Homo sapiens: one gene and its partner. Changing the gene in region 1 together with any one later gene gives a genetic interaction. Each region holds a gene or a part of one and is shown in the gene's direction. Other genes may lie near its edges.

The links. Genes that interact genetically often act in the same process or in processes that back each other up.
Region 2: changes in PDIA6 (region 1) and GBF1 together harm fitness more than expected from each alone (negative genetic interaction), as found in Homo sapiens cells (one study listed by BioGRID).

What each region holds. Positions count from the first base shown.
Region 1 is NC_000002.12:10,806,286-10,809,785, reverse strand, and holds part of PDIA6 (protein disulfide-isomerase A6 isoform d precursor), read left to right. Parts: intron 1-3,500. UniProt on the Homo sapiens protein: May function as a chaperone that inhibits aggregation of misfolded proteins. Negatively regulates the unfolded protein response (UPR) through binding to UPR sensors such as ERN1, which in turn inactivates ERN1 signaling.
Region 2 is NC_000010.11:102,367,532-102,371,031, forward strand, and holds part of GBF1 (Golgi-specific brefeldin A-resistance guanine nucleotide exchange factor 1), read left to right. Parts: coding exon 1-29; intron 30-686; coding exon 687-923; intron 924-1,207; coding exon 1,208-1,301; intron 1,302-1,679; coding exon 1,680-1,856; intron 1,857-2,179; coding exon 2,180-2,244; intron 2,245-2,329; coding exon 2,330-2,453; intron 2,454-2,642; coding exon 2,643-2,714; intron 2,715-2,852; coding exon 2,853-2,947; intron 2,948-3,175; coding exon 3,176-3,329; intron 3,330-3,500. UniProt on the Homo sapiens protein: Guanine-nucleotide exchange factor (GEF) for members of the Arf family of small GTPases involved in trafficking in the early secretory pathway; its GEF activity initiates the coating of nascent vesicles via the localized generation of activated ARFs through replacement of GDP with GTP.

The sequences.
Region 1 (3,500 bases):
TTCACAATAGGCTCAGTGTACTGAGCAAGTACCAAATTCATATCGATTTTACAAAAAAGATAAAGTTCTTTAAAAGTAGTACATCTCTGTAGAAGATTATCCTATTTTTTGGGTTTTTTTTTTTTTTTTTTTTTTTTTTTGAGACCGGGTCTTGCTCTGCCTCCCAGGCTCAAGCAATCCTCCCACATCAGCCTCTGGAGTAGCTGCGGCTACAGATGCACCCTACCATACCGAGCTAATTTTTGCATTTTTGTATTTCATATTTTTTCTCTACAAGAGATGGAGTTTTGCCATGTTGCCCAGGCTGGTCTCAAACTCCTGGCTCAGGTTATCCACCCGCCTCATCCTCCCAAAGTTCTGGGATTACAGGCCTAAGCCACCACACCCAGCCTTAGTCTTACTTTCAAGCTTATTCAGAGTTAGGACTGTCAGTGCTTATGTTCTTGATTTACTTGGCTTTGTTAAACGTGTCAAACTCTACTTCACCTTTTCTGCAGCAGTGAAAAGATTAATGAGCAGTGCCATCCAATAGAAATATAATGCAAACATATATGTAATTTTAAATTTTCTAGTAGCTACATTTAAAATGGCCAAAAGAAACAGGTGAAATTAATATATTTACTGAGTATATCTAAGATCATTTAAACATGTGTTTTCAAAATGAAAAATAATATTGAGGCCGGGCACGGTGGCTCACGCCTGTAATCCTCGCACTTTGGGAGGCCAAGGTGGGCGGATCACCTGAGGTCAGGAGTTCAAGACCAGCCTGGCCAACATGGTGAAACCCCATCTCTACTAAAATACAAAAATTAGCCGGGCATGATGGCTGATGCCTGTAATCCTGAGACGGGAGAATCGCTTGAACCCAGGAGACAGTGGTTGCAGTGAGCCAAGATTGCACCACTGCACTCCAGCCTGGGCAGCTGAGTGAGACGCCGTCTCAAAAAAAAAGAAAAATAATGAGATTACATTTTTCCCTCCATTAAGTCTTCAGAATTCAGTGTGTTTTTACCAGCATATCTTAGTTTGGGGTAGCCACATGTAGCTAGTGGCTATCATGCTGGATAACCTGTTACTGAGAGAGCAGCCCCGCTTTGGTTAGCCTGGCATCCATTCACAGGCATCCTTTCCCACCTCTTGAAATGGAAAAGGAGATCATCCTATCAAAGGCTACTCCATCACTGACTGGGTTCCCGCTCCTCTTCTGACTCTGGGCATTTTATTCAGATACTCCCTGTATTTTATCTTTGGCCTCTCCCACTGCATATGTCTTCCTCTCCTAGATCACTCCCATCTTCAAAGAAAACCTTCCTTGTTTTCTACATTTGCCTGCCTCTGGTCTCTATAATGAAACCTGCTTAAAGAGTTACCTATATTCTCTCCAACCTTCTGCAGACTGCATGCCTGTTATTTTCACTCCACCACAACTGCCAGGGCTCCCAGTGACTTCTTTGTCACTAAATCCAATCAGTAGATGGTTTTAAGTCTTTGCTACTTTATCTCCCAGTAGCATTTGTTAGTGTGGCCCCTTCCACATGTATCTTGGTTTATGTGACACCACTCTGGATAATTCTCCCAATCCACCTTCCACATGGCAACTGGAATACTCCTTCTAGAAAGCATAAATCTATTCTTTCCTCTGAATGATAACCCTTTAGTGGCTTCACTATTAGTAAAATTAACAGTTTTATAAGTTCTTACAGTATTGGCTATATCTGTGATTCAAATGCAGTGTAAATCTTGAATACCATAATTGTTCATTCATACCTATAGCGTACAGAACCACTTTATCTTGAGCACTAAAAAGACAGCATGGTGTAATAGGAAAAGCTTGGAAATGGAGAGCTGCCCTGCCCCTTATATGTATGACCATAGATGGGCCATTTGGTCTAGACCTTTATTTACAAAATGGGGATAAGTCCTACTTTCTAGTTAGTAATGCTGTCAAAAATTAAGTGATCTAACATTTGATAGTGATTTGAAAAATTGAACGTGTTGTATGATGGAGGATTTAGCAGTAAAACAATGAACAATGGTGTACACTCCTTCCAGAAAAAGTGTACCATTTAGTTATTCCAAAAAGGTCCATTTGAAATCTTCCAAATTCTAATTGTGAAGCAAGCATGTGAAAATGTAACTAAGATGGCATGTACACACACTACTTGAGAACACAGGCCAGTCTCACTTATAATTTGCTATATCAACAAATTAAAAGGAAGAAATGATATGATCAACTTCAGAGATGCTGAAAAGACAGGAATAGATAGAAATTTCGTTAACATTGTAAGTACATTTTGGCCTGGCGTGGTCACTCATACCTGTAATCCCAGCACTTTGGGAGGCAGAGGCAGGAGGATCACTTGAGACCAGCCTGGGCAACACAGGGAGACCCTGTCTCTACAAAAAATTTAAAAGTTAGCCAGGGATGCACCTGTAGTCCCAGCTACTGGGGGTGCTGAGGTGGGAGGATCACTTGAGCCCAGGAGGTCAGGGCTGCTGCAGGGAGCTGTGTTTGCACCATTGCACTCCAGTCTGGGTGACAGATCAAGACCCTCTCTCAAAAAAAATTAAAAAGTGTATTTATTTCAATCCAAAAGCCAGCATGATGCAAATAGGAAAACCTTGTTGAAGTCAAGAATAGTCTGAGGATATTCCATTATTTACCTTGTTCTAGAGGTAATCAGCAAATTTTTGTATATTGTCATGTGTTGCTTAACATTAGAGACGTGATCTGAATTATGATCAACTTCAGAGATGCTGAAAAGACAGGAATAGAAATTTCTTTAATTGCTATTGTATCAGACGATTTCTTCATTGTGAATAACATCAGTGTGTACTTAATACAAACCTAGATGGCATAACTTACTAAAAACCTAGGCTACATGGTATAGCTTATTTCTCTTAGGTTATAAATCTGTTCGGCATGTTACTGTACTGAATATTGTATGCAGTTGTAACACAATGGCAAGCATTTGTGTATCTAAACATAGAAAGGGTGCAGTAAAAATATGATATAAAAGATTAAAATAGTACACCTGTACAGGACATTTACCGTGAATGCAGCTTGCATGACTGGGGGTTGCTCTAAAAATTTTATTTCTTGGATAATAGATTAACCTTAATTTACTGTAACGTTTTTCTTTCTTTCTTTCTTTCTGTCTTTATTTTTTAGGAGATGTGGTTTTGCTATTCTGTGTTGGCCAGCCTGGTTTTGAACTGCTGGCCTCAAGCAGTCCTCCCACTTTGGCCTCCAAAGTGTTGGGATTATAGGTGTGAGCCATGGCATCTGGTCAACATTTTACTTTCTAAACTTAATTTTTTTTTTTTAACTTTTTGGCTCTTGTAAAAACACTTACCTTAAAACGCATTATACAAAACAGCAGTACAAAAATATTTTCTCTCTTTTTTTTTTTTTTTTGAGACAAGGTCTTGCCCTATCAGGCTGGAGTGAGTGGTGCATCACAGCCCACTGCACCCGTAGCCTCGACCTCCCTGGGCTC
Region 2 (3,500 bases), on another chromosome or scaffold:
ATCCTGGAGGACATGTACCATGCCATCAAGTGAGTATACATAGAGAATAGTGCAGTATCTCTGTTAAGAAGAAGCACATTGCTTCCTTTCCCAGTTTTTAGAGTCATGTCAGACTGCAGTGACTCACATGCCCTGGATTTAGCCTCAGGACTTAGTTGGGCAGCCCCCTCTCTGCCAACTGTTTCTTCCTTAAAGAAGCCCAAATGATATTGGGACTCTAGTACTCTAAGCCAGGGTCCAAAGTGCTGCTCTTAAGTAGGATATCATGGCCCCATTTTCTGAACTTAAAACAGGTACATTTTCCTGTATAGATTACAAGATGCTGGCTGGTAGAGAACCCAAGATGGGCACTGGAGTGTGAGGCCCAGGTTACAGGTCAGAAATGGGCCACTTAGTTTTTTACTGTAAATCAGAAAAGGTAGAATTGTTCATTTTATCACACCTAGTAAGAATGTGTGATCTTACTATAGAACTAAAGGCCTCACTTACAGATAGGGCTTTGAGATTATGGGACACTTCCTTTCTTTCTGTCTGCTCCCACTGGTGGGTGGAAAGCAGACCACTGAGCTGCAGTTCTGATGACCTCTCATCAGTGGAGAGTGCTAGTATGGATGAACTCCTAGTCTTGGTTTGGAACTAGTCAGGTTCAAAGCAGTGCAACTGCTCCTTCCCTTACCTCCTGACAGGAATGAGGAAATTGTAATGCCTGAGGAGCAGACAGGCTTGGTTCGGGAGAACTATGTGTGGAATGTGCTGCTTCATCGAGGTGCCACCCCTGAGGGCATATTCCTGCGTGTGCCTACTGCCAGCTATGATCTTGACCTCTTCACCATGACCTGGGGCCCCACTATTGCTGCTCTCTCTTATGTCTTTGACAAAAGCCTTGAGGAGACAATCATCCAGAAAGCCATCTCAGGCTTCAGGTAGCCCAGCTTTGGCCTTGGTCTTCACCTCCCACTAGCTCTGTGAGCTAACATGGTTTTCTCCATGCCTCTCTGACTCCTACTGTTACTTCATTAGAATGGGGTTCCCCCTGAGTTTTTGGAGGGAGGCTGAAGCTTGGGTAGGCTCAGTCTTAAACAGAAACAAAATTAAAAGGTTTCTTCCTGGGACTGACTGGGGAAGAGCCCCATGCAAGCTCAGGGACTTGGAAGGGCTGCTTGGCCTTCCAGTGACTCTGTTTCTGGGATGGGGGGTAACATTACAGGAAGTGCGCCATGATCTCCGCCCACTATGGCCTCAGCGATGTGTTTGACAATCTCATCATCTCTCTATGCAAATTCACAGCTCTCAGCAGTGAGGTGAGCAGGTGCAGGAACTGTGTACTTGGAGCTCCAAAGGAGGACCTCTCTTTTAGCCATGGATCTACCCTTATCAACAGACCTGGTTGCCCTCAGCGTCTTCCCTCACTGCCCCCACTTGAATATACCAGAGCTTAGGCCATTTCTGTCTTGCACACTCTGGGATAAAACTAGTGTTACTTCATGTAATGGGGATGGGAAAGGAGATACAGGAGTGGGGAAGGCCTTAACTAGGTTAACCCACTCCCACCAGTATTATGGGGGATTGAAGCAGAGCCAACAAAAGGACCTGAGGGAACCATCATAGGCAGAGACCTAAGAGATTTTCCTTTCCAGACATTAGCTCGGCCTTAAGTCTGTTCTCTTCCTCTTTTCCAGTCTATTGAGAACCTGCCCAGTGTATTTGGAAGCAACCCTAAAGCCCATATTGCAGCCAAGACAGTATTCCATTTGGCCCATCGTCATGGTGACATCCTGCGGGAGGGCTGGAAGAATATCATGGAGGCCATGCTGCAGCTCTTCCGAGCCCAACTACTGCCCAAGGCTATGATAGAGGTAATTCTTAGTAGGAGACTAGTGAGCGATAACAAGGCAAGAGCTGCAACATTGTATGCTACCTGTACATAGAAGTAAGTGGTTGAGAGTAATGTTGGGCCTGATGCCTGCCACAGCTCACCAGGAATGCCTCAAATGTAAGACCACAGATCTTGGGGGATAGCTGTAAAAGAAGGCTGGTAGATGCCATTGCCAGTCACCAATTGGCACAATAGCATAGGGGCAGAAGACTAGAGGAGGAAATCCAGAGAACTTTGGTGGGTGGAGGCGGGCACAAATGCAAAGGACACATGGAAAGAAATTATTTTGACTTACTTTTCCAGGTAGAAGATTTCGTGGATCCCAATGGCAAGATCTCTCTACAGCGGGAAGAGACACCATCAAACCGGTAAGAGCAGACCAGAGGCTCAGGGGCTTGGGGAGGGAGAGTCAGAACTTTGGGGCTCACCAGGCCATGTGCCCTTTTTCTACAGAGGAGAGTCAACAGTGCTGAGCTTTGTGAGCTGGCTAACACTGAGTGGTCCTGAGCAGTCTAGTGTTCGGGGCCCATCCACTGAAAACCAAGAGGCCAAGAGAGTGGCCTTAGAGTGTATAAAGGTAACTGCCCATCCACCCCTGGTGAGAAAGCCTAAACACCTTCCTATTAGATGCTACTTGGTGAACTGAAGAATAAATCATCCAGGATTTGTAACCAGGGCTGACTCTGCCCTCTCCCCCTGGCTCTTGGGGACATTCTGTTCTCTTCAGCCTTTGTCAAAGACCCCCTCTCTCTTTTGCCCTCTCTAGCAATGTGACCCAGAAAAAATGATCACAGAAAGCAAGTTCCTCCAGCTGGAGTCACTACAGGAGCTCATGAAGGTAAAGGATGAAGAAAGGAAACATGGAACAACTGGCTGAATCTGGGAGGGGTGACAGGGACAGTATTATTTCTGTCAGGGCAGGGCCAGTGGTTGGCTTCTTTTCCATGCCTACTTTCCTGCTGCTGTTCCCCTTCAGGCTCTGGTCTCAGTGACACCAGATGAAGAGACATATGATGAGGAAGATGCTGCTTTCTGCCTAGAGATGCTGCTAAGGATTGTGTTGGAGAACAGGTAAGATGAGCGTAGTCTTTAGGCAGACCCCATGCTGGGCTTGTGCCAAAGGGATGGAAGCCATCTTGCTGAGTGGGCTCTGGGGAACTGTAGGCAGCAGGGGAGAAGCTTACTCATCATACCTGTCTACTTAGGGTATAATACCAATGAGTCCTGAAAGGCCTAGGGGACCTGTTGCCCAGTGGCCCCTCTGGCTGAGACTATCTTCATTCCTTTATGTCTACACAGGGATCGTGTGGGCTGTGTGTGGCAGACTGTTCGAGACCATCTATACCACCTCTGTGTTCAGGCACAAGATTTCTGCTTCCTTGTGGAGCGGGCAGTGGTGGGGTTGCTACGCCTGGCCATTCGGCTTCTCCGGAGAGAAGAGATCAGTGCTCAGGTAAGCAGAATGCATCTTGGAGAGTGGGCAGGTATGCAAGGGATTAAGGCCACAGTTGTCAATTATGAATATGGCCTGAGACAGAGAGTACATTTAGTGCCCCATAGCATGAGTCCAGTGACCAACCACAGGGCTGGTGCAGTCTAGCGGGTGGTACTGGGAGTGAGCCTG